Homo sapiens: one gene and its partners. The protein of the gene in region 1 purifies or fractionates together with the protein of each later gene. This does not show direct contact. Each region holds a gene or a part of one and is shown on either strand. Other genes may lie near its edges. The genes, in order: DFFA, FAM118B, NUDT5, PFAS, NSUN2, GNB4 and ISOC1.

What was found.
Region 2: the proteins of DFFA (region 1) and FAM118B fractionate together in Homo sapiens (co-fractionation; one large-scale study listed by BioGRID). This does not show direct contact.
Region 3: the proteins of DFFA (region 1) and NUDT5 fractionate together in Homo sapiens (co-fractionation; one large-scale study listed by BioGRID). This does not show direct contact.
Region 4: the proteins of DFFA (region 1) and PFAS fractionate together in Homo sapiens (co-fractionation; one large-scale study listed by BioGRID). This does not show direct contact.
Region 5: the proteins of DFFA (region 1) and NSUN2 fractionate together in Homo sapiens (co-fractionation; one large-scale study listed by BioGRID). This does not show direct contact.
Region 6: the proteins of DFFA (region 1) and GNB4 purify together in Homo sapiens (affinity purification with mass spectrometry, with the first as the bait; one large-scale study listed by BioGRID). This does not show direct contact.
Region 7: the proteins of DFFA (region 1) and ISOC1 fractionate together in Homo sapiens (co-fractionation; one large-scale study listed by BioGRID). This does not show direct contact.

What each region holds. Positions count from the first base shown.
Region 1 is NC_000001.11:10,456,022-10,459,275, forward strand, and holds the end of DFFA (DNA fragmentation factor subunit alpha), read right to left. Parts: 3' UTR 501-3,254; downstream 1-500. UniProt on the Homo sapiens protein: Inhibitor of the caspase-activated DNase (DFF40).
Region 2 is NC_000011.10:126,235,782-126,239,281, reverse strand, and holds part of FAM118B (protein FAM118B), read right to left. Parts: intron 3,353-3,500; exon of another isoform or gene 3,211-3,352; coding exon of another isoform or gene 3,027-3,210; intron 1-3,026. Other genes in the region: SRPRA (signal recognition particle receptor subunit alpha), read left to right, coding at 3,027-3,210. UniProt on the Homo sapiens protein: May play a role in Cajal bodies formation.
Region 3 is NC_000010.11:12,185,892-12,189,391, reverse strand, and holds part of NUDT5 (ADP-sugar pyrophosphatase), read left to right. Parts: intron 1-3,059; 5' UTR 3,060-3,100; coding exon 3,101-3,163; intron 3,164-3,500. UniProt on the Homo sapiens protein: Enzyme that can either act as an ADP-sugar pyrophosphatase in absence of diphosphate or catalyze the synthesis of ATP in presence of diphosphate.
Region 4 is NC_000017.11:8,255,789-8,259,288, forward strand, and holds part of PFAS (phosphoribosylformylglycinamidine synthase), read left to right. Parts: intron 1-16; coding exon 17-122; intron 123-478; coding exon 479-619; intron 620-735; coding exon 736-860; intron 861-1,046; coding exon 1,047-1,175; intron 1,176-2,018; coding exon 2,019-2,150; intron 2,151-2,282; coding exon 2,283-2,411; intron 2,412-3,500. UniProt on the Homo sapiens protein: Phosphoribosylformylglycinamidine synthase involved in the purines biosynthetic pathway. Catalyzes the ATP-dependent conversion of formylglycinamide ribonucleotide (FGAR) and glutamine to yield formylglycinamidine ribonucleotide (FGAM) and glutamate.
Region 5 is NC_000005.10:6,616,045-6,619,544, reverse strand, and holds part of NSUN2 (RNA cytosine C(5)-methyltransferase NSUN2), read left to right. Parts: intron 1-1,520; coding exon 1,521-1,595; intron 1,596-2,687; coding exon 2,688-2,818; intron 2,819-3,500. UniProt on the Homo sapiens protein: RNA cytosine C(5)-methyltransferase that methylates cytosine to 5-methylcytosine (m5C) in various RNAs, such as tRNAs, mRNAs and some long non-coding RNAs (lncRNAs).
Region 6 is NC_000003.12:179,413,471-179,416,970, reverse strand, and holds part of GNB4 (guanine nucleotide-binding protein subunit beta-4), read left to right. Parts: intron 1-414; coding exon 415-478; intron 479-1,923; coding exon 1,924-2,086; intron 2,087-3,189; coding exon 3,190-3,256; intron 3,257-3,357; coding exon 3,358-3,500. UniProt on the Homo sapiens protein: Guanine nucleotide-binding proteins (G proteins) are involved as a modulator or transducer in various transmembrane signaling systems.
Region 7 is NC_000005.10:129,104,749-129,108,248, reverse strand, and holds part of ISOC1 (isochorismatase domain-containing protein 1), read right to left. Parts: intron 3,294-3,500; coding exon 3,174-3,293; intron 3,065-3,173; coding exon 2,861-3,064; intron 1,304-2,860; coding exon 1,187-1,303; intron 1-1,186.

The DNA of each region.
Region 1 (3,254 bases):
GGAGAATCCCTTGAACCTGGGAGGTGGAGGTTACAGTGAGCTGAGATAGAGCCACTGAACTCCAGCCTGGGTGACAGAGCGAGATTGTCTTAAAAAAAGAAAAGAAAAAGAGTGAAGAAAATCCGCTATCTATGCATTAATCTGTGGGCTCATTTCCTTGCAGCCTTGTGATTGCACGAGTGTTGTCTGATATCATTTGAGCAAGTTGTCAACTCTAAGGTTCTGCAACCTGTAAATGCAGTGCAGCTCCTGGGGAGGGCGTCTGTCCCCCTGGCTGGAGGCTCTCAAACAGAATGGAGACCCTCACTGTCAGACCTATTGGGAGGACTCAGGCGGTGGATGGGGGTTCAGACTAGATCATGTCCAAGGTCCTTAAAAACCACAAGGTGTATAAGATGCAGCCAAAATGATTTAAGGCAAAACCCCACAAACAAGATGGACAAAAACCCTCAAGGTGAAAAAGAAAAAAAAAAAAAAAAAAAAAAAGCTTGAACAGGTAATTAGGAAATTAAACAGCTAAATAATGTGGTTATTTATTAAAGATACATTAATAATTCTTGTAATTGATGCAGGTTTTCTTTTTTCTACAGACTACTATTATTTTATTCTTGTCTCTCTGGAAAATGAAAAATCCATTAGTTTTTCTCTTTTGCTTTTACCCAGAAATTAAAGGTTGGTAAGTGGTAATTAGCGTAGCTCCTGTCAAAGCCAGTTGCCTCATGAGGACCGACATTTGACTTAAGCTGAAATAATGGAATATGGCTAATGTAAAGTTCATTAGTCCCAGCTGCTTTCTTTGACATTCTTTTCTTCTACCACAAGAACGGGCATGCCCTGCCCTCTCTCACTCCTATTTTTAGACGTATTGCTGCGCTCCTATGTGTCTATTCTACAAGGCTGGAGGCACAGTGGTTATAGGGAAGGTAAATGGTAATGGGACAATATGTCTGTGACCACGTTCATTACACATCTGGGATAGAGCTCTGACTCTTTGATAGAGGACTCCAGCACCCCATCTGTCTGCCCCTGAGAAACGAAAGAGAACCACTCTCCACTGTCTACTATATGTTAGGTACTAGGATTTTTCTCATTATAGCACTTCATTCCTTTCTTGGGGGGGACTGGATTATTTATTTTGAGACAGGGCCTCACTCTGCCACCCAGGATGGAGTGCAGTGGCACGATCACAGCTCATTGTAGCCTCGAACTCCTGGGCTCAAGTGATCCTTCTGCCTTAGCCTCCCGAGTATCTAGGATTACAGGCATGTACCACTACACCCGGCTAATTTTTATTTTTTACATTTTTGTAGAGATGGGGTCTTGCTATGTTCCCCAGGTCGGTCTGTCGGTCATGTGGTACTTCATTTAGGCCAGGCGTGGTGGCTCACCACCTATACTCCCAGCACTTTGGGAGGCCAAGGCAGGTGGATCACTTGAGGTCAGGAGTTTGAGACCAGTCTAGCCAACATGGTGAAACCCTGTGTCTACTAAAAATACCAAAAAAAACTTAGCCGGGTGTGGTGGCGGGCACCTGTAATCCCAGCTACTCTGGAGGCTGAGGCAAGAGAATCGCCTGAACCTGGGAGATGGAGGTTGCAGTGAGCAGAGATTGTGCCACTACACTCCAGCCTGGGCAACAGAGCAAAGCCTCAAACAAAACGAAAACGAAACAAAACAAATATAGTACTTCATTTAACCCTTTCAAGCTTGGAGCCTTAGACTAACTGAGAGGTTAGACTCAAGCCGGTTTGTCTCACTCCCAAATCCACAGGACATTTTCCATTATCCACCCAGTTCAGCCGCTTGGTGGGCTTGCTTCAAGTACAGAATATTAACACTAACGCCCAGACGAGTCAACGAACGCTCTGTGTGTCTAACAGAAATAAAATATTCTGGCTGGGTGTGGTGGCTCATGCCTGTAATCCCAAAATTCTGGGAAGCTGATGTGGGAGGATTGCTTGAGGCCTGGAGTTTGAGACCAGCCTGGGTAACATGGTGAGTTTTAATGTACCCTGGATTTCCTAGGAATGTAGCTACTCTGTAAATCAAGGACAGACACGTTTACTGTTCTGGGAAATCCCATTTCCAAGGGCAACGCTGCTGACGGTGTTTGAGCTGACAATCCCCGTGCCCCATGTGCCAATCAGCCTCTGTCGGATGCACAGCGATTCCGTGTGTAAGTGCAAGCATCTGACAGTGAAACACACACCACTTTGTTGGAAATTATTTTCCTTTTTGCCCTGAAACAGTACATCTGGGGCATTATATTAATGCTTCTGTATGAGTGTAGGTAGCTTATCAGCGGTGGCTTCTATTAAAGGATAATTAAGGAGGCATTACAAAATAAGCTATAAAAAAGGAAATGTTGGGGTGAGAGCCAATGGAGGGCATTAGTAAAAGGATGCTGAGTAGAAGATCTAAGCCCTTCTTGAATCACAGGAAAAGGAAACAGTTGTTTTTGTTCTATTTAATTGTTTTCTGTACCCCCATCTTTACCCTAGGACTTATTGTGATTTTCTTTTTTTTTTTTTTTTAAAGACAGAGTCTCATTCTGTCACCCAGGCTGGAGCCCAGTGGCAGGATCTCAGCTCAGTGCAATCTCCACCTCCTGGGTTCAAGCGATTCTCATGTCTCAGCCTCCTGAGTAGCTGGGATTACAGGTGCCCACCATCACGCCTGGCTAATTTTTGTATTTTTAGTAGACTGGGTTTTGTCACGTTGGCCAGGCTGGTCTCAAACTCCTGACCTCAGGTGATCCATCTGCCTTGGCCTCCCAAAGTGCTGGGACTGCAGGTGTGAGCCACTGCGCCCGGCCTATTGTGACATATTGTGATATTTCTTTCTTTTTTGTGTGACAGTGTCTCACTCTGTTGCAGGCTGGAGTACAGTGGCACAATTTCGGCTCACCTCCACCTCCACTTCCTGGGTTCAAGCAATTCTCATGCCTCAGCCTCCCAAGTAACTGGGACTACAGGCGTGTACCACTACACCCGGCTAATTTTTTATAATTTCAGTAGAGACGGGGTTTCACCATGTTGGCTAGGCTGGTCTCGAACTCCTGACCTCAGGTGATCCGCCCACCTTGGCCTCCCAAAATGCTGGGATTACAGGTGTGAGCCACTGCGCCCGGCCTATTGTGATATTTCTTTACTTAATAACTAGCAGATGAATCTCTTAACAGTATTCTGTTTTCCTCTAAGCATGCATAAAAAGTGGTCAAATAAGTCCATGATGACTCATCACCTTTTCCCTGC
Region 2 (3,500 bases), on another chromosome or scaffold:
TAATTAAGACTTCCAATTTGGCTAAGTGCAGTGGTTCATGCCTGTAATCTCAGCACTTTAGGAGGCTGAGCTTGAGCCCAGGAGTTTGAGACAAGCCTAGGCAACTTAGTGAGACCCCATCTCTGCCAAACAAAGAAAGAACGAAAAAGAAAATTAGGCACGTCTGTAGTCCCAGCTACCTGGGAGGCTAAGTTCACGGGAGGATCACGTGAGCCCAGGAGGCTGAGGTTGCAGTGAGCTGTGTTTGTGCCACTGCACTCCAGCCTGGGTGACAGAACAAGACCTTGTCTCGAAAAAAAAAAAAAAAAAGACTTCCACTTAAAAATAAAACATTTAACAATTGTGTTTTATTACTGGTTCTTTGTAAACCACCAAATAATAGTTACTTTTTTTTTTTAGCGGGTATATATACCTAAAAAGTAGGCTAGGTAAAGATGACAGCAGACAACAGAGGTCAAAGGGCAACAACATTTTACCAATTGTAATGCAAAGGCCGATTCCCTTGGTAGAATTTTGGGAATGTTCATGTACATCTAAAGGTAGAGGGGCTGGTGGGGCTAAAATAGGAGAATCAGTTACAAGCCTTTAACAGTTACAACTTTCAGCAGGCTAGAGGTTTCCCTTCTGCAGAGGTTGACCAGAGGACTATATCTGAGAACACTGCACACAGCTGAGGGTGGGGATTAAGTAAAAGTCTGTATATAAAATACAAGATTTCCCCCAACTCTCTTTCCCCAGAGGAAGCTTTTCAGACTCTAGGAATCAACTCTGTACCTGCACCCCTATCCCCCATCCAGTTAGGAAATGAGGACGATTCCTCTTTCAGGAAAATGGCCAGTATGAGATGAAAAACCTGCAGATTCTGACAGGTGGGAATTCCTTAACTCTACATAGAGTCTGGGACCAAGCCCCTTATGTACACACAGATTCTCCAACTGGCTTTTTTTTTTGAGATGGAATCTCGTAATCTTGGCTCACTGCAACCTCTGCCTCCTGGGTTCAAGTGATTCTCTTGCTTCAGCCTCCCGAGTAGCTGGGATTACAGGCACGTGCCACCACACCCAGCCAATTTTTGTATTTTTAGTAGAGACGGGGTTTCACCAGGTTGGCCAGGCTGGTCTCAAACTCCTGACCTCAAGTGATCCGCCTGCCTTGGCCTCCCAAAGTGCTGGGATTACAGGCGTGAGCCACCGCACCCGGCCTCTTCCATTGGCTTTTTGGTGTTTTCTGTTAAAAATGGGCAGACAAACAAGGGTCACCTCACATCTGAGGAAAGCCCCCAACATAACAGTTATACCAAACAAACTAGCAGGTAGAGAGAAATCTGAAGGAAATAAGAGATAGTATGGGAAGGAGAAAAAAAAATTAAAAGAAAACAATGATATCCTCACATATATTTTTTCTTTTCTTTTTTTTTTTTTTTTTGGAGACGGAGTCTAGCTTTGTTGCCAGGCTGGAGTGCAGTGACACAATCTCAGCTCACTGCAACCTCCGCCTCCCAGGTTCAAGTGATTCTCCTGCCTCAGCCTCCCGAGTAGCTGGGATTACAGGCACGCGCCACCACGCCCCGCTAATTTTTTTTTTTTTTTTTTTTTTTTTTTAGTAGAGACAGGGTTTCACTATGTTACCCAGGTACCCAGGATGGTCTCGATCTCCTGACCTCACGATCTGCCCACCTCAGCCTCCCAAAGTGCTGGGATGACAGGCGTGAGCCACCGAGCCTGGCCTAGATTTTTTTAAAATTGGCCAGGTGGGGTGGCTCACGCCTGTCATCCCAGCACTTTGGGAGGCCAAGGCAGGTGGATCACTTGAGGTCAGGAGTTTGAGATCAGCCTGGTCAACATGGTGAAAACCTGTCTTTATTTAAAAAATAAATAAATAAATAAAATAAAAATTAGCCAGGTGTGGTAGAGCACGTTTGTAATCCCAGCTACTCAGGAGGCTGAGGCAGGAGAATTGCTTGAACCCGGGAGGCAGAGGTTGCAGTGAGCTGAGATTGCACCATTGCACTCCAGCCTGGGCAACAGAGCGAGACTCCATCTCAAAAAAAAAAAAAAAAAAAAAAAGGCCAGGCGCGGTGGCTCACGTCTGTAATCCCTGCACTTTAGGAGGCTGAGGCAGGTGGATCATGAGGTCAGGAGATTAAGGCCATCCTGGCTAACACAGTGAAATCCCGTCTCTACTAAAAATACAAAAAATTAGCCGGGCATGGTGGCGGGCGCCTGTAGTCCCAGCTACTCGGGAGGCTGAGGCAGGAGAATGGTGTGAACCCGGGAGGCAGAGCTTGCAATGAGCCGAGATAGTGTCACTGCACTCCAGCCTGGGAGACAGTGAGACTCTGTCTAAAAAAAAAAAAAAAAAAAAGCATCTGTGAAACATAAACAGAGTGCTATGAAAAAATGAACAAACAAAAAGACTTCATAAATCAAAAATAACGCAACAGAAATTTTTAAATCCACAAGATAAAACAGAGAACCCCCGAGAAAGCTAAATTTAAGAAAACGAAATGGGGGGGAAAAAAATAAAGCAACACATAAAAAATTAGAGACTTAATACAAGAAGTCCAACATCTGAATAACAAGAGTTTTAAAAAAATGTGGAATAGAAAAAACATTGTAATGGAAAGTATCAAAAAAGTAATATAAGTCAACTTCTCCAAAGTGAAGGTACTAGTTGCCAGCTTTAAAGAGCTGCCCGGTGTCTAGATTCATATGACAAGATACATCACTGTGAAATTTCAGGTTACTGAGAATAAAATAATGATCCTTATAAGCTTCTAATGAACAACAACAACAACAAAAATGAAACAAAACAAAACAAAAAACAGGGAAAGAGGTCATACAATACAAAGGATTGGGAATCAGAACAGAGTGGCTATTTTGGCAGGAATACTTAGATGTTAGCAGAGTATGAATGAGAGATACTAAAAATTCTATACTCAGTCAAACCATCAAATGAATGTAAGTGTATGATAAAGACCTTTTCAAATATGTCCAAATAATTTTCTCCTATGGGTCCTTACTTAGGAGGCTATGCAAGGACATGCTTCAGGAAAACAAAGGCGTGCACCAAAAAAGAGGACATGAGATCCAGCAAACAGAGAATCGATACAGGAGAGATGTAAAGGAAATTATCAGGATGATGGGAATGGGAAATAGCAAATATCAGGAACGCAACAGGACTGGAGAACAAGTGTCCAGAGTGGACTAGCATCCAGAAGGAAGAATCCATGACACAAACCAGCAAGTTATCGGTGTGTTTCAGTATAGCTAGGAGATTTATTCTTCTGTCAGAGCATGTGAGAATACATTGAAAGCAAACAAACAAACAAAAAAGACAGTCTTTAATGACATAAGCAAAAAAAATGGGCAAGAAAGGAAACATAATCGTTACGCATTAGGCTCAGCTATGAATACTACTTATACAGTCGTAATAATGTAAATATTAAAAGTGGATTGAACCAGGCCGGGCACAGTGGCTCACGCCTATAATCCCAGCAC
Region 3 (3,500 bases), on another chromosome or scaffold:
GTTCACGCCTGTAATCCCAGCACTTTGGGAGGCTGAGGCTGGTGGATCACCTGAGGTCAGGAGTTCGAGGCCAGCCTGCCCAACATGGCAAAACCCCATCTCTACTAAAAATGTAAAAATTAGCCGGGTGCAGTGGTAGGAGCCTGTAATCCCAGGTACTCGGGAGGCTGAGGCAGGAGAATCGCTTGAATCCGTGAGGCAGAGGTTGCAGTGAGCCGAGATCATGCCTTTGCACTCCAGCCGGGCAACAAGAGCGAAACTCCATCTCAAAAAAAAAAGTTTACCTAATAAATTATCATCTATGGTACTTTCAAAGGAATAAGTGCCTGTTTTCTTAGTAGGGCTGCAGGTTTCAATATGCTAATGTCTGTCTCTAAATATTTAAACTTCTACGTGGTTTACTTCCTTATTGCTTTCAGGTCTCCATTCAGAAGTCACCAAATTAAACAGGCCTTGCCTGATCACTCCGTGTAGATTACTCTTCCCATCTTCCCCACACTTCTCATCCTTTTTAATCTTTCTTCATGAAACGCTGAGTCACTTGACATAAATTTTGTGTTCTTCCTCACTGTTTTTCCTTTCTCCTCACTGGAAAATGAGGTCCGGGGGAGTGAGGGTCTTTGTCCCTCTCACCACCACTTTTTTTTTTTTTTTTTTTTTTTTAGATGGAGTCTTGCTCTGTCGCCAGGCTGCAGTGCAGTGGCACGATCTCAGCTCACTGCAACCTCCATCTCCTGGGTTCAAGCCATTCTCCTCCCTCAGCCTTCCCTGTAGTTGGGGCTACAGGCGCACCCCACCACGTCCAGCTAATTTTTGTATTTTTAGTAGAGACAGGGTTTCACCATGTTGGCCAGGATGGTCTCCATCTCTTGACCTCGTGATCCACCCGCCCTGGCCTCCCAAAGTGCTGGGATTGTAGGCGTGAGGCGTGAGCCACCGCACCCGGCCTCACCGCCACTTTCCTAAAACATCATCTCACCTTTCACAGGTTGGCCACAAGGGTTACCTATGATAGTCAATCAGATATTTGATTTGTAAACGCACTTTATGAATATTCATACAGTTGGTTTTGTTATTGATTGTATTTTAGAATAGGGAAGCTTGCTGTCTTGGGGACAAATTGAAGATCAGATGGGTAGTATGATCACTTTGGGTCCCAGAAGAAACAAAGAGCAGACTCACTTTTTCCTTTAGGACAGTTGGGAAGAGAGTTGATGCTGGGTGGGCTGTATTTTCTTTGAAGCCGAAGTTAGGTGGGGTAGGTTAGAGAACCGTGGAACGTAAGAGTGCAGTGGCGTGATCTCGGCTCTCTGCAACCCCCAACTCCTGGGTCCAAATGACCCTCCTGCCTCAGCTTCCTGAGTAGCTGGGACTACAGGTGCCCACCACCACACCCGGCTAATTTTTTTATTTTTTATTTTTGTGGAGACAGGGTTTTGCCATGTTACCCAGGCTGGTCTCAGACTCTTGGTCCCCCAAAGGGCTAGGATTCCAGGTGTGAGCCACTGTGCCTGGTCCAAGTAACAGTTCTTAAAAGAAACAACAGAGAAAACACAGGGGAGGAAATCATCAGTGAAGTCGTTCAAGAAAAAAATTCCCTGTAAAGAAGCATAGTAAGAAGTTTCCAGATTGAAAGGACCCACTTGACTTCCCAGTACAATAACATCGACATGAAAGTGACTAACTACAAGCTTCCAGAGGAGGAAGACAGGTCACATGGCAAAAAGATCAAGAATAAGAATAGCTTTGGACTTCTCAACAGCAGCACCAGAAGTAAGACAACTAAGCAATGCCTTACAGTTTCATAGACAACTGGCTTTGGGTCTATAATTCTATATACAGCTGAATTAACAACCATGTGTGTGGGTAAGAAAAAAAGACTTTGACCTTCGGACAGGCAAGGTCCGAAAATGAAGGAATAAAGAAAGAGGAAATAATAATATACAATAAATGGGATAAGGGCCTGCTCTTTTCATAACAGAACTTGTAGTACTACTCGATCCTTTCTCTGCAACTATGACTTTGATACATGCTGAAACTTAAAAGTAAGTGGGGAGGTGGGTCCAGTGGCTCATGCCTGTAATCCCAGCACTTTGGGACACCGAGGCGGGAGGAGGATCGCTTGAGCCCGGGAGTCTGAGACCAGCCTGTGAAACATAGTGAGACCCCACCTCTACCAAAAGTTTAAAACATTAGTTGGCTGTGGTAGCATGCACCTGTAATCCCAGCTACTCAGGAGGCTGAGATGCGAGGAGCACGTGAGCTTGGGAGGTAGAGGCTACAGTGAGCCATGATTTCGCCACTGCACTCCAACCTGTGCAACAGAGTGAGATCTTACATCTCAAAAAATAAGTAAGTTTAGGTGTAACAGATGGATAAAAGACTGAGAGGTGGGCATGGAGAGTGGTAAATCTTTCTTCTGTCTTCCCTTGGAAAGAGTTTAAGATTCGGAGTCAGAAAAATCAGGCTGGGCGCGGTAGCTCACGCCTGTAATCCCAGCACTTTGGGAGGCCAAGGAGGGCAGATCACTTGATGTCAGGAGGTTGAGAGCAGCATGGCCAACGTGGTGAAACCCTGTCTCTACTAAAAATATAAAAATTACCAGGCCTGGTGATGTATGCCTGTAATCCCAGCTACTCGGGAGGCTGAGGCACGAGGATCACTTGAACCCAGGAGGCGGAGGTTGCAGTGAGCTGAGATCGCGCCATTGCACTCCACCCTGGGCAACAGAGTGAGACTCTCTCAAAAAAAACAAAAAAGAAAAAAAAAAAAAGAAAAATCTGATGAAGAAGGGTGGCCTCTAAGTGCCTAGAACAGGCATGGCAGGAGCTTGGCTGTTGTGGCTGAGGGTGACTAGGACTGCTGTCACTTCCTTCCTGGCTAATCCCCGGGCCTCCCTGTTCACATTTCCACCTGCGGCAGTTCCCTCACATACTGAGACAGGCAGCGTTGATGGTAGATGAATTTTTTGCCGTTTAAGTACTTTGACTAGTGTCCTGTGGACGAATGTTTAATTCAGAAAAATAATTTTAGCCTGAACAAATCTCATTATCTTGCAGGGTGAACTTCTCACCTGAGGGCTGTAAAGACTCGTTTGAAAATGGAGAGCCAAGAACCAACGGAATCTTCTCAGAATGGCAAACAGTATATCATTTCAGAGGAGGTATAACTTGTTTTTCACTTTCCCTTCCCTCCCCCACATAAATCTGAGTTTAGCAGAAATATATAGACTGTTGTTACAATGGTGGTCTTTCATTCTTGAAGACAGTTGTAAAGATTTTTCCTACTCCCTTTTTTGGGCTCGGGCACATTTTGCTCTTGTGTGGGAGGAGTAGTGTGTCTCTCTGTGTATTAGTGAAATTGAGACTCTAGGAGATTTGGGCTCTTAACAGAAAAATTCTTAATCCTTCCTGTATTTCCCTAGATAGAAGAAGAAAGAATATATGCATTTGCGGACTCAGATATTTCATATGTAGTTGTCACAACTTGGCTGTTGATGG
Region 4 (3,500 bases), on another chromosome or scaffold:
TGGATTTGTCTCCTAGGTCTGGCTTTAGACTCTTGGGACCTAGACTTCTACACCAAGCGCTTCCAGGAGCTACAGCGGAACCCGAGCACTGTGGAGGCCTTTGACTTGGCGCAGTCCAATAGGTGAGGAGAAATGGGGTTGTTCCCATACCTGAGCCCATGGGTGTTGGGAGAGACCACAGGGGCTCACCTTCATGTTCCTCCCTTGGCTTAGGGGCCTCCCTGAGTCTCTGAGGGCCTGGGCTCCCGTCATCCATCAAGGAGTCTACATTCAAATCTTGGTTTTATCTTCACTTTGGCTCTGGATAGTCCAAAATGACAGAATACTTGAAGATTATGACTTTTTGGAATATATTTTGATCTGTCATCTAAGTATGAATTTGGCTGTAACTCTGCTGTTAAATGCTGGTGAGAAGACATGGCATTAAGAAATGACCCCGTTTCCACCTGCCTTCCCCTCCCTGCATCGCCCCCTGCAGCGAGCACAGCCGACACTGGTTCTTCAAGGGCCAGCTCCACGTGGATGGGCAGAAGCTGGTGCACTCACTGTTTGAGTCCATCATGAGCACCCAGGAATCCTCGAACCCCAACAACGTCCTCAAATTCTGTGATAACAGCAGGTGCTGTGCCCTAGACTGGGTTGGCGTCAGGACCCGGGGAGGGGAGGCCCCAGGCCCTGGTTGGGTTAGTGTAGGTCCCAGAAAGGAAGCAAGGTCCATGACGGGTATGTCCACAGTGCAATCCAGGGAAAGGAAGTCCGATTCCTACGGCCTGAGGACCCCACACGGCCAAGCCGCTTCCAGCAACAGCAAGGGCTGAGACATGTTGTCTTCACAGCAGAGACTCACAACTTTCCCACAGGTGAGCTGGGTTCCCTGGAGAAATAGGTGAGATCACAGAATAGGGTAGGGCAAAGGTCCCAGGCCCCTGGAGTGGGCCTGGGGAAAATAATCAGGGAAATTGGTTGTCCTTATTTTCAGTGGGGGTGGTCAGAGATGGGGGTTTGTCTCTGAGGCACCCAGACCTCTCCCCACTCTCTCTTTGCAGGAGTATGCCCCTTTAGTGGTGCAACCACTGGCACAGGGGGCCGGATTCGAGATGTCCAGTGCACAGGCCGCGGGGCCCACGTGGTGGCTGGCACTGCCGGCTATTGCTTTGGAAATCTGCATATTCCAGGTTCCATCTCCTTCCTCTCTATCCACCTTCCCTTCCAGATTCCTTGTCCTGGCAGGCAGCAAACTTCTATCTGTTAGGTCCATAGGGTTATCCTGTGTGCCTTTTCTCAGGAGGAAGGGCTCTAGGATAGCTGGCCTTTCACTAACTATGGTCATAAGTGTAGACCTGGGGAGATGAGGTGGCCAGACTGCTTTTGCAGGTCTACGATTTTCTTTAAAAACTAGCCTTCATTCAGCCAGAAAGCATGATATTGGGTTGGTCTTATGATCAGTACCTGCCCCTCAAATCTGGTTTCTTAGCCTGAGAAACTTGGCTGGGCGTGGTGGCTCACGCCTGTAATCCCAGCACTTTGGGAGGCTGAGGTGGGCGGATCACAAGGTCAGGAGATCAAAACCATCCTGGCTAACACGGTGAAACCCCGTCTCTACTAAAAATACAAAAAATTAGCTGGGCGTGGTGGCGGGCGCCTATAGTCCCAGCTACTCAGGAGGCTGAGGCGAGAGAATGGCGTGAACCCGGGAGGCGGAGCTTTCAGTGAGCCAAGATCACGCCACTGCACGCTAGCCTGGGTGATAGAGCGAGACTCCATCTCAAAAAAAAAAACAGAAAGCCTGTGTAACTCTGATTGCGAGATTCAGAGGGAAGGCTGGTGTGGGTGGTGGAAAGAAGACCAGTGCCTCACTGCAGGCTCTAGGGCTTCCTAAAGCAGGACTTCCTGAAGTGGAACATTGCAACCATGCAGGTGGTCCTTGGTGGCCTTGACTCTTCCTGAAGGATGCAGGCTGCTCCGGCCTGTCTTCACAGTTCATTCAGTTCATCCAGTTCTCTCTCCTTCCCTCCCAGGTTACAATCTGCCCTGGGAGGATCCAAGCTTCCAGTATCCTGGGAATTTTGCCCGGCCCCTGGAGGTTGCCATTGAAGCCAGTAATGGAGCTTCTGACTATGGCAACAAGTTTGGGGAACCAGTGCTGGCTGGTGAGGCTGGGGTGTGGAGGGATGACAAACACCCAGAGGGGCTTGTGGGTGGGGTGTGCGACCCAGGGGCTGTGCTATTGGGCGAGCACTGGGGGAACTGAGTGACAGGTCCCTCTGATGTTCACACTCCAGGCTTCGCCCGCTCCTTGGGCCTCCAGCTCCCAGACGGCCAGCGGCGTGAGTGGATCAAGCCCATCATGTTTAGTGGGGGCATTGGGTCCATGGAAGCTGACCACATAAGCAAGGAGGCCCCAGAGCCAGGTAAGAGCCTGCCACCTTTCTCTGGATCCAGCCAGCTTTCTCCCCAGCACAGGATGGCTACAGGGAGGGAACTTAGGGAACACTTCAGTGGTTAGTTTTTAATATGTTGGCTTATCTTATGTGTCACATAATGATGGACAACTCATTCTGAGAAATGTGGCTATTAGGTAATTTCATTATTGTGCCCACTTCATAGACTGTACATACACAAACCTAGATGGCATAGCCTGCTACACGATCCACACAGCCTCTTACTGGCAATATTATCCAGGAATTTTGTACACTTGGGAGCCATGATGAACAAAACAGCATGAGAATAAAATAAGCACAAGAGAAAATAATGCAATCAAGACGTGGTGGGCCAGGCAGGGTGGCTCGCACCTGTAATCTCAGCACTTTGGGAGACTGAGACAGGTGGATCACCTGAGATCAGGAGTTCAAGACCAGCCTGACCAACATGCTGAAACCCTGTTGCTACTAAAAACACAAAAATTAGCCAGGCATCTGCCGGGCATGGTGGCTCATGCCTGTAATCCCAACACTTTGGGAGGCTGAGGTGGGCAGATCACGAGGTCAGGAGATCGAGACCATCCTGGCTAACACGGTGAAACCCCGTCTCTACTAAAAAAATAAAAAAATTAGCCAGGTGTGGTGGCGGGCACCTGTAGTCCCAGCTACTCGGAGGCTGAGGCAGGAGAATGACGTGAACCCAGGAGGTGGAGCTTGCAGTGAGCTGAGATCCCACCACTGCACTCCAGCCTGGGCGACAGATGGAGACTCCATCTCAAAAAAAAAAAAAAAAAAATTACCCAGGCGTCATGGTGCATGCCTATAGTCCCAGCCTCCTGAGGCACAAGAACCACTTGAAGCTGGGAGGTGGAGGTTGCAGTGAGTGGAGATCGCACCACTGCGATCGCACCACTGTCAAAAAAAAAAAAAAAGACGTGGTAAATATGAGATAATATGAAGCTACTGTCAATGTAACATGGCATACCGTTTTTAGGTAAACTTTTTTTTCTCTTTTTTGTTAATTATTATTATTTTTAATCTGCATTTTCTTTCTCAAGTCAGATTTTTTTTCTCTTTTTA
Region 5 (3,500 bases), on another chromosome or scaffold:
CATGGTATAACTGAGTAACAAGTTTTTTTAAAAGGAAAGAAACAAAACTAAAGACATCATCTGTTCCGTTCCCATAGGAGGTGCACGGATGATGATCCCAGGTGATAATGACTTCTGAATGACATAAGTTTGTCAAGACCAGAATTCAAAAGCTGCCACAAAACTTGTTAGCACAGAATGCAAGCTTTAGATACGATACCACATTATGGAAGAATGCCATTTTGTTTCAGTAAGTGGCAGAGTTACTGCTCATGGCAAAACTCAGTATGAAACTTGCAGCTGGTGGCTCTGAATATAGCTGAGTGTTAAAATAATCTGGAAAAAGCCCTCTTTAAAGTAAAATTTAAAATACATCATGAACTAAAGTTTTTTTTTCCTCTAGGTTGCAATTTTTCAGTATTCCTTGGGGTCTCATGTTTTCCTACCCCTGTTTTTTGATCAGAAAGATAACTCGTTCCTTGTATCATATTCTGAGATCTGAGAACGCAGTGACCTTATGAGCAAGAGGTTGCAAGCTGGGGAAATTTCTGAAATTGTGGTGGGATTTCTACCATGCAAACAACTAGTGTACAGCCAGGAATGCCATTGCAAAGTGGGGATTACATCTCATGGGATAATTCCATCCTGCAGACCTAGTCCCTCGTGTACACGCGGCTAGACCATCAAGGAAAATCAGCATTTACAGAGAAAGCCAACAAAAACAGGCGTTACCTTCTGGGAAAACAGGGCAGATAAAATTAGACACAGAAAGTAACAAATCCAGTCTTTACTATAAAATATACATGGAAAGAGCTTCCATTAACAAAAACATGAAAATAACTTCCATTAAATAAAAGTAGAAAGTCAGAAATTTAACGGTGATTGTAAGAAAAATTTAGCTATTAGTAAGAAAAATTTAGCTATTATATTAGCTTAATTGAAATTACTATGGAAAATTTATTAGTCATTATTCATATAATTCTGATTAAAATGCCATTGTTGATTAACTGAGTTTTTCAATAGTATTTTAGGTTCTGAAAAACATGAAAATAACTTCCATTAAATAAAAGTAGAAAGTCAGAAATGTTTACCTGTGATTGTAGGAAAAATTTAGCTAATATATTAGCTTAACTGTGGAAAATTTCTTATTAGTCATTATTCATGTAATTCTGATTAAAGTGTCATTGTTGATTAACTGAGATTTTCAATAGTATTTTAGGTTCTGTGTCCTAGGTCTGCAAATTAGTCTTGCTAGTGTTTTTTCCAAATGGAAGCACATTAATATCTCCTTAGTGAATGGAGTTTACTGTTCAAATCCATTATTTTCTGCTTGAAAATTGAAGTATAATTTAAAACTATAATACATTAGAAAATCCCTAAAACAAAAGCTGAAAGCAGATTGCAGTTGGTGAAAATGGAGATTGTTTCCTAACTGATATTTGTAACACTTGTTTTGTAACTTAGCTTGTATGTGACATATCTGTTAAAGTGCAGTCATCCACCTGTAGGGAGCTTTGCACTCATAAATATCTTTTTTCCAGTGGAGACGGCACTATGAGAAAAAACATTGATGTTTGGAAAAAGTGGACCACCTTAAATAGCTTGCAGCTACATGGGTAAGTAAAACTTCATCACTGCTAACACTGTGTGACAAGTAGATCAGCAGAGATTTATTGTTATGCAAGTGAGCATCCGATCTTTAATTAGAGAGCTGTAAGCATCAGAGGATGGTCAATGGCCACCTTCAACTGTTTTATCAGAAGTTATTTGAAAACCTTTCAAGAGCAATAACTGCAAATTGTATACATTTCAGATAACACGTTTATTAAAAATGCCTTCTATAAAAATTTCTTGCAACACTTCAGATATGTATTTTTCCATGAAATGACCGTTTACCTCTTGATGTATGCATTACTAATCTTTTCTCTCTGTTTTTGTTCTTTTGTATCATCGTTTTGCTAAGAGACATTTTGATCTCTTAGAAATATTTTTCGGTTGGCTTTTTATGATGGGGAACTATTCATTAAAGAACAATTGGAAAATTCTTAAAGAGAAATCTCATAACACGATGATCACGTCTGTTAATGTTTGGTGTGTTGTATTGTTTTTCTGTTTACAGGGATTTTTTAAGTACTTTTTCCAAATACTTTTGATCATGCTGTCTGTAGAGCAGTGTATTCTTTTTTTCATTTGACATGACAAATGCCATGGTCTTGCATGCAGGACTGTACTGTGCCTGAGCCACAGAATACTAATTAGCATCCACCACAACCAACTATAGCAGGAGGCCTCGTCTCCATAAAATACTGTCTACTGTTTTGTGACACAGAGACAAGAGTTAGGACTGGAATGTATGATACCAATTTTTCATAGAAAAACCACATATTTAGGAAGTATGGAGGTTTTTTAAATAGTGAAATTTCATCTAATACATTGAATTCTGTTGTTACTGAACTTTATACTCTGCTGGTTGACATATTGGGAAAGGTTAACAGAGCAGTAAGAATATTTATATAATACATTTTTTTTATTAACATGAAACACTTTATATAAGTTTACTCTAACTTCATTTAGATCCCTGGAAGGTTTTTTTTAAGTATAATTGTGTTATAAAAGCTTGTAATGAATATGTGACATAAGGAGGTGCTTCTAATATGTGCACTTCATGGATACATTTGGCCTTGCAGTCATCTGATATCTCCCCTTAGCTTACAGCTGCGGATTGCAACACGCGGGGCTGAACAGCTGGCTGAAGGTGGAAGGATGGTGTATTCCACGTGTTCACTAAACCCTATTGAGGATGAAGCAGTCATAGCATCTTTACTGGAAAAAAGTGAAGGTAAGCACGCTTGATGGATCTTTTATTAACAGCATAGGGGGCTTTTCATATGTGTATGGTACAATACACATAACGTGAGGTTTACCATCTTAATCATTTTTGAGCCTGCAGTTCAGTCCCGTTAGGTATATTCCCATTGTTAATCACCACCACCATCCATCTCCAGAAATCTTCACCTTGCAAAACTGAAACTCTGAACTCCTTTAAACAGTAGCTCCCATCTCTCTCTTCCCTGCCCCTCACACCACCGTTCTATTTTTTGTCTGTATGACTTTGACTACTCTAGACCTCACAGAAGCGGAATCATACTGTATTTGTCTTTTCGTGACTGGCTTATTTAACTTACTGCAGCGTCCTTGAGGCTCACTTGTGTTGTTGTCTGTGTCAAAATTGCATTGCTTATTAAGGCTGAACACTATTCTGTTGTTTATATAAACCGCATTTTGTTTACCCATCCATCTGTTGATGGACATCTGGGTTTCTTCCACTTTTTGGCTGTTGTGAGCCATGCTGCTGTGAGCATGGTATACAAATACCTCTCCAAGATCCTGGTTACGATTCTTTGGATATACACTCAGAAGTTGAATGGCTGGATCATATGATCATATAGTAATTCTGTGTTTAATTTTGGGGGGACCCCACCATGCTTTTTTTCACAGTGGCTGCGTCATTTTGTATTTCT
Region 6 (3,500 bases), on another chromosome or scaffold:
CTCTAGTATTGTCATATTCTCAGGCTCTCAATTGGTGTTTTTAGATTGGATGAAATATGGTTGTTAGGCTTCTATGTACATTCTTGTCATGAAATTTAAGTAAGTCAGTAAGTACTAAACCAGTCAGCTAATATCCACCCAAATCTTGTATAACTAAGATGTTGTTACCACAAAAATGTTTAATCATAGCCAGACATTTTTAGTCAGTTGCTAAATTTTATTTTATGAAATATGTTCAAGATTTTTGGCATGCAGCATAAATTTTTTAAAAGTTGGAAGAACATTTTTTGGTATCAAGTTTTTAGTTGGAAAAATTGTATTTTTCTGAATTATTCTACATTAATGCAATGCATAACCAATTTAAGCTATTTTTTCCCTCTAAGTGTCAAATTATTTTTGTGTTTGTTCCTCTAGGCTGCTAGTCAGTGCTTCTCAAGATGGAAAATTAATTATTTGGGATAGCTATACAACAAATAAGGTAGAATTTCTTCATAATTCTTTTAAATAACCTTATATTTGTTTGGCTGTTCACCAGTTCTTTCCTTTATTCTTTTACCTCAAACTTAAATTGCTTTCTGAGATAAATTTATTGTTTATTTTAATCTAGTTCTTCTCTTTTGTCTTAGTGTTTACTTTTAATGTTTAACCCTTTTTCATTTCCAAAGATGACTCTATGTTTTACTAGAGGGCTCATATTTAATATATGAATATTAGAAGAGTACCATTTTACATATACTAATAAATGATTTTTAAAAATTCCCATTTCCTAATATGACAAAGACCTTGAGATTTTTATTTCTAGTTTTGGATAAGTTAGATGGCTAGTGGGAAGCTCTTCTTTGGCCCGCTCCAGGCACTGATTTGTGCTTCTGGACTTTTTAGAAGATACAGTAGATTGGAGGTAAATGACAACTTACGTAGATCTCTTGGTGGTAAAAGACTGTGGATGGTCCTAATACATCCACTGGAAGGAATCCCCAGTTTAAAATAGTTGAGTGGTGAAAAAGCTTCAGGAATACTTTGATAAGCTAATACCTTTATACTCTGTGTATACATATTAGTATTTTTATTAAACATTTGAAAATACCATTTTGTGAAATAATAATTTCAACCTGATTGAGATTTTAAAGCTAGCTAAGACAATTTTGTAATATAATAGTTTTTCTTTATTAATCATCATTAAGCACATTATCTTTCAACTATATTTTCATAAAACAAAAAAAATGTATTTTAAGCGTATTATTTTAGGTTAAGTGAGAGCATAGTAGTAATCCTGCCACGTGTTGATTCCCTGTATGGACTGTTTAGCCGTGGTATTCTCATACACCTTTTTTCCATCTGACCTTCAAATGATTGGTGTTAGGGTAACAAGGCAGCAGACAGTGTTGTTTCTAGAGCAATAAAAAACTATCACCATTGTTTGAATGAGATCCCAGAATAAGGGCCTATTAATAGAGGGATGCCAGTGTTGTCTTTTCATGGAAGACTCATGTAATCGACTCTGATACTTGCTAATTATTTCCCTAGTTCTTGTTCAGAGTTATGTTGGAGGAAATTTCTCTTCTGAGCACTATTACAAAAGTGAAAATTCTATTAAAACCTCTAACATTTTACACTTAATTTTTCAAATGGCAGTATATTAACCTTGGAACATCTTTATGTTCATTATTTTATTAAGAGAATTATTTCCAAAAAGAGCACTTTTTGACTCAAATGATTTGATAATACAAAACAATAGGCATTTTAATGTGCGTTAGTGTTGTATTTTTCATGGTTCACTTTCTCAAGCCATTACATTATTTTATTTGACTTATCTTTCTTAGATGTGTTTAATTTTTAATAATATTTACTTCATTGTAAATGGGTTTATGCAATAGATGACTGTTTTTGTAATCTGAGTGATGTGTGGTGTGTGCCCTACAGATGCATGCTATTCCTTTGAGGTCCTCCTGGGTGATGACCTGTGCTTATGCTCCCTCTGGTAATTATGTTGCCTGTGGAGGCTTGGACAACATCTGCTCTATATATAACTTAAAGACCAGAGAGGGAAATGTGAGAGTAAGCCGAGAGTTGCCAGGTCACACAGGTGAGCTTCCCTAAATATTCTTTCCCACCACACGATTCCTTGTGTGGAATGTGCTGATCAAGGACAAATGACAGATTGTGCTCGGCTGGCTAAAGGATGAGGATTAATCGGGTGGGAATGAAATTATTATGAACAAAGGAAACATTAACTTTTTATAGTCATACAAACGTTGATCATAATTTTATTTTTCAAAAATAGCTGTATTGTTTTTGTAAAAAATGATAAATTTACTGCACAAAATTCAAACTCATGAAAAATAAAGCAAATAAAATGTTCTCCATTTTCTGCTGCCATATAACAATTATGGGATTGTGGCATCTGTACTCAATTACATAATTGAAAGTATGCATTAAGGTACATTAGTGAAGTGCTTTTCACCATGATAGTGTATTGCTTTGTTTGCCAGTGTGCCCATCATAGTTCAATAGTGTAGTATTGGGTTAGTGGTGTTAATCAGGAATTTATTGCCACTTATCTGGTATCTATCCATCTGAATTTTTAGCCATACTATTTGACCATGCTTTTACAAAATCTCTAGAATGGTGTTTTTCTGACATTTCCATATTTTGAAACACTGATGAATGCTAAGCATTCAAATGCCACATCTTTCATAAAGTCTTCACTGTTGTTCTTCTGATTTCTTACAATATTTTATTTTTTTAATATTTTTTATTTGAAAAAAAAATTTTTTTAACTGCTCCTTGCAGAGAAGGGCTAACTCATAGGCGGTGCACCCAGAGGCATCCTCTCACAGTATTTTAAAACTATTTCTCCAGGGTGCTTAACACAGTCGGCCATAGATTATAGTTCTTCCCAAGGTAATTGTCTTAGGTGGCAGGGGCTGTGTCTTATTCAATTTGGTAACTTTCAGAGTACCCAGCACAATGTCATTAACATAGTTAATGCCTAAGAATGGTTTGTGGATAAAATTTGGTTTATAGACAATGTAGGATTTGAAGTAACTAAAAGTAGAACTATAGACTATATTGACAAACACTTGTTGCCCAAGTATTCTATTTTTAAAAATATATATTGCTATTTCACATGGTAACTGAGTTATTCAATCAGTGATAACCTAAAATTTGCTACTCTTTATGCTGTAGGGTACTTGTCCTGCTGTCGTTTTTTAGATGACAGCCAAATTGTTACAAGTTCAGGAGATACAACTTGGTAAGTTTATTCCAGAAGCACACTGATTATGGGTTTGAGGGTGGTAGCAGGAACTGACATAAGAAGAAGTAATTGTCATGAAATTTTGTTTTTAATTACAGTGCTTTATGGGACATCGAAACTGCCCAGCAGACCACCACATTCACTGGGCATTCTGGAGATGTGATGAGTCTTTCTTTGAGTCCTGACATGAGGACTTTTGTTTCTGGTGCTTGTGATGCCTCTTCCAAATTATGGGATATTC
Region 7 (3,500 bases), on another chromosome or scaffold:
AAGGCCCTCCCCTTTCTCATTTGCTCTACCTTACCACCCTGGGGAACACAGTAGGCTAAAGGGATGAGTTAGCATTCCTACTACAGACAAGGCAGTTCACAGGCCAGACTGTGCATAGAACACTGGAGGGTCTCAACAAAACAAACCCATGTATTTCCCATTCTCAATAAACAGTTAAAGAACTCAGCAATTAAATTCACATGCACATTGCTCTAAAATTATTACAAAATTAGAACTAAATATGAGAGAGAGAGAGATCAAACGACAATATGGAGTGAATATTTCCCAAGATTATGTGGTAGTTTGCTTTTTAACAGTCTTGAAAAAGAAAATGCTTGACATCCTACTGTTGGGCAATGTTGACAGAGAATTACAGACTCCCTGATTCCATGGGACATGGTGACATTCTAATGCCAAGACTACCATGAAACACTGGATGTGAGTGGTGTCCACAGTCAATGACACACCACTTAGTCCCAGAAATTCAAGTCTGAGGAAATCTAATAGTCATCTCTGGTTCCTGGATGCCACCCCACCCCATACCAAAATCCATGGATGCTCAAGTCCCTGATATAAAACAGCATAGTATTTGTATATAATCTATGCATATCCTATATACATTAAATCATCTCTATATTACTTATAATACCCAATACAATGTAAATGCTATGTAAATAGATGTTATTCTGCCCTATCATTCTATTTTTATTTTTATTGTTGTGATGTTATTTTTTATTGCTTTTTATTTCTGATATTTTCTATCTGTGGATACAGAAGGTCCACTATATATTAAACTGGGTTAGGCCTGCTCTGCTCTAGCTTTTGGCTAAATGAGTTAAACCCAACTGAGCTATTTTTAATTTGCAAACCTCTAAACAGTTTAGGTTAGGCTTCTTGGAATATCTCCTAGTTCACGTATAAAACTAGGGCAAACGTATGACGAAAGATGTAAAGGAGTTTGTGGCAACGCTAGAAACCTTGATCTAAGGAGGAAACGAGACATAAAATAGGATATGGTGGTGAAGCCTTAAGGGTCAGTCAGTGCACAGTTGAAATCAATTAGTCTGATATTGCCAGACCAACTCAAATTTAGGAGGTAAACCTTTCATTACTGTTAAATATCCAGTATTCTTCTCATTTATTTGGAAAACTTGACAAATGATCTATTCCCAAGCAGGACAATTACCTCGAGGGCAAACATCCTGTCCATCATGCTTCTTGATGAGGTGGCATCAGCAACAATGTGAACCTCGACTCCTCGGCCAACTAGCTCCAGGGCAGTTTGTTGGATGCACACATGAGTCTAGTAGGAAAGTACAAGAATCATATGTAATAACATAATAAACTAAAAGTAGTTTACAAATGTACAACAACATGATAAAGCAGACAGAGCACTACAGATCATCTAAGGACCTTGTTCTACATCTAGTTTTGCTTCTAATTAGCTAGATAATCTGGAGCATAAAACAGTATCTCTGGCTTTGGTTTATTCATTTGTAAAATCAGGAACTGAATTAGGCCAATGTTTCTGATACTAAGAACCTTAAACATATTCTTAGAGTTTTACAAGAATTTGTTAAAGATTTTGCTCCATGTGATCTGGATGACCTTCACATAGCTGATTTACTAGCACTCAGTTTTGGTGCGACTTTGAGTTTTTTTCTTCATTCACCCTAAGTGTCCAACATGAAGAATGAGTCTTCAGTCTTGCAGACTGAGAACTTAGTGGGAAAACTGAGTCATTATGAGGCACTCTGTAGTAAAGGTAGGCCAAGTGAAAAATAACTTATGACACGGGAAAAAAATACCCAGTTCATATCATCCGCAAATGTATTATACAGATTCCATCTTTGTAAGTACTAACTTGTGTCAATTCATTAACAGATACTATAGAGTGAAAACAGGCTGCAACAATGACTGAATCATGTATTACAACCAATGAAAGTACATTTCAATGATGCCACGTCAACTTTATCTTCACATGACAAGAGCGTTTTGGAGAATTATCAAATGACACCTCATTAAAATTAGCATTGAAGGACCACTCAAAGATAATTGTGATTGAGCATAAGGTCTAATGATGATGAACAAGCAAAAAAGGTGCAAAGCCAGCAACAGCACTTGGTACGACATATTTATACAAAACAGGCTTCTTCTTTACTGTGCCAAAATACAGAAATATTGAATATACATCTAAGCCTGAGGAAATATCTTTCTACTGTTAAAACCTACTACTATAAAAGTTACCTTCAAATTGTCATAATCACATTAAATTAATATTTTGATTTCATTGTTTTAGTGGTTTTTTCTTAATTTTTAAAATTTTAGTTTAATAGTTGTTTAAAAGCTAGGAATAAATCAATTGAAATCAGCAATAGGAATCCATTAGTATTTTTCCCCTGTAAAAAGATACATACATGATTTGAAGGACAATGAACTACATGACCTCCAAGGTTCTTCTAGCACAAAAATATGACCTAACTGAAATCCTACAACACATACATTAAAATAATGCCTTTGGTGAAAATGTATTCCAAAAGTAGTAGTTAAAAATACAGGACCAAGAATCAATCAGCTTACATACATTCAAGTCAGTTACACAACATCTCGGTATTTTAGTATCCTCTTTAATATGGGGAGACTACTGAGTATTTAGCTCTTACTTGGCTTAAGGGACTTAATAAATAAACAGCTATAAAATGTTCAGATCAGTGCCATGCAAATAGTGAACATAATACATGGTGGCTACCTTTCCTCATTATTACTGCCTACCTGGCATACCATATATGAAATTACATTCCACAAATATTGAGTTTTCTATAAATAATATTGTGCCTAAATGATAGTAACAGGTACTTACTTCTACTCCAAATAATACAACACTCCTGACTCCGGGAATCTCTGCTAATGCCGCTTCTACTTCTGGTAATACCATTGAAAACTTGGTCTTTGGAAGTACCAGTTTTACACCTGTTAAATCAATTTCTTGAACCGTGCTCCCAAGACCTTTAGGGTATTGTTCTGTTACAATAACAGGAATTCCTAAAATCCGGGCCCCTTGCAACTGAAAAAAAATAACCAAACACAAAAACAATTAGCTATATACATATATGTGTATATATGAGTGTATATGATGATTCAGCAAATATGACCAAATAAGTAAACAAGCATACCAATCTCTGTCCCACGCTAATAATATCCCCAAAATACTTGATGGCTGGTCTGAACCTTTCCTGCATATCACAGCAGAAAAACACAGTGCTTGAAGGTGTAAGATTTCCCAGGGTAGTGAGCTGAGGAAAAAAGAAAAAGAATGATTTAGCACTTGTTGTACAATGACATTTATTTTCAGTGGAGGTCAATAAAGGAAGAAAAATGGTCCTATTGTTTGAGCCAGTAAGTCAATTTCTACCGCTATTATCCAAAAAAAGTATCTGAATTACAGGAAAAAAAAAAACTCAAAAAGATGTTCTCTGAATTGCTTTTAATAGCGGAAATTA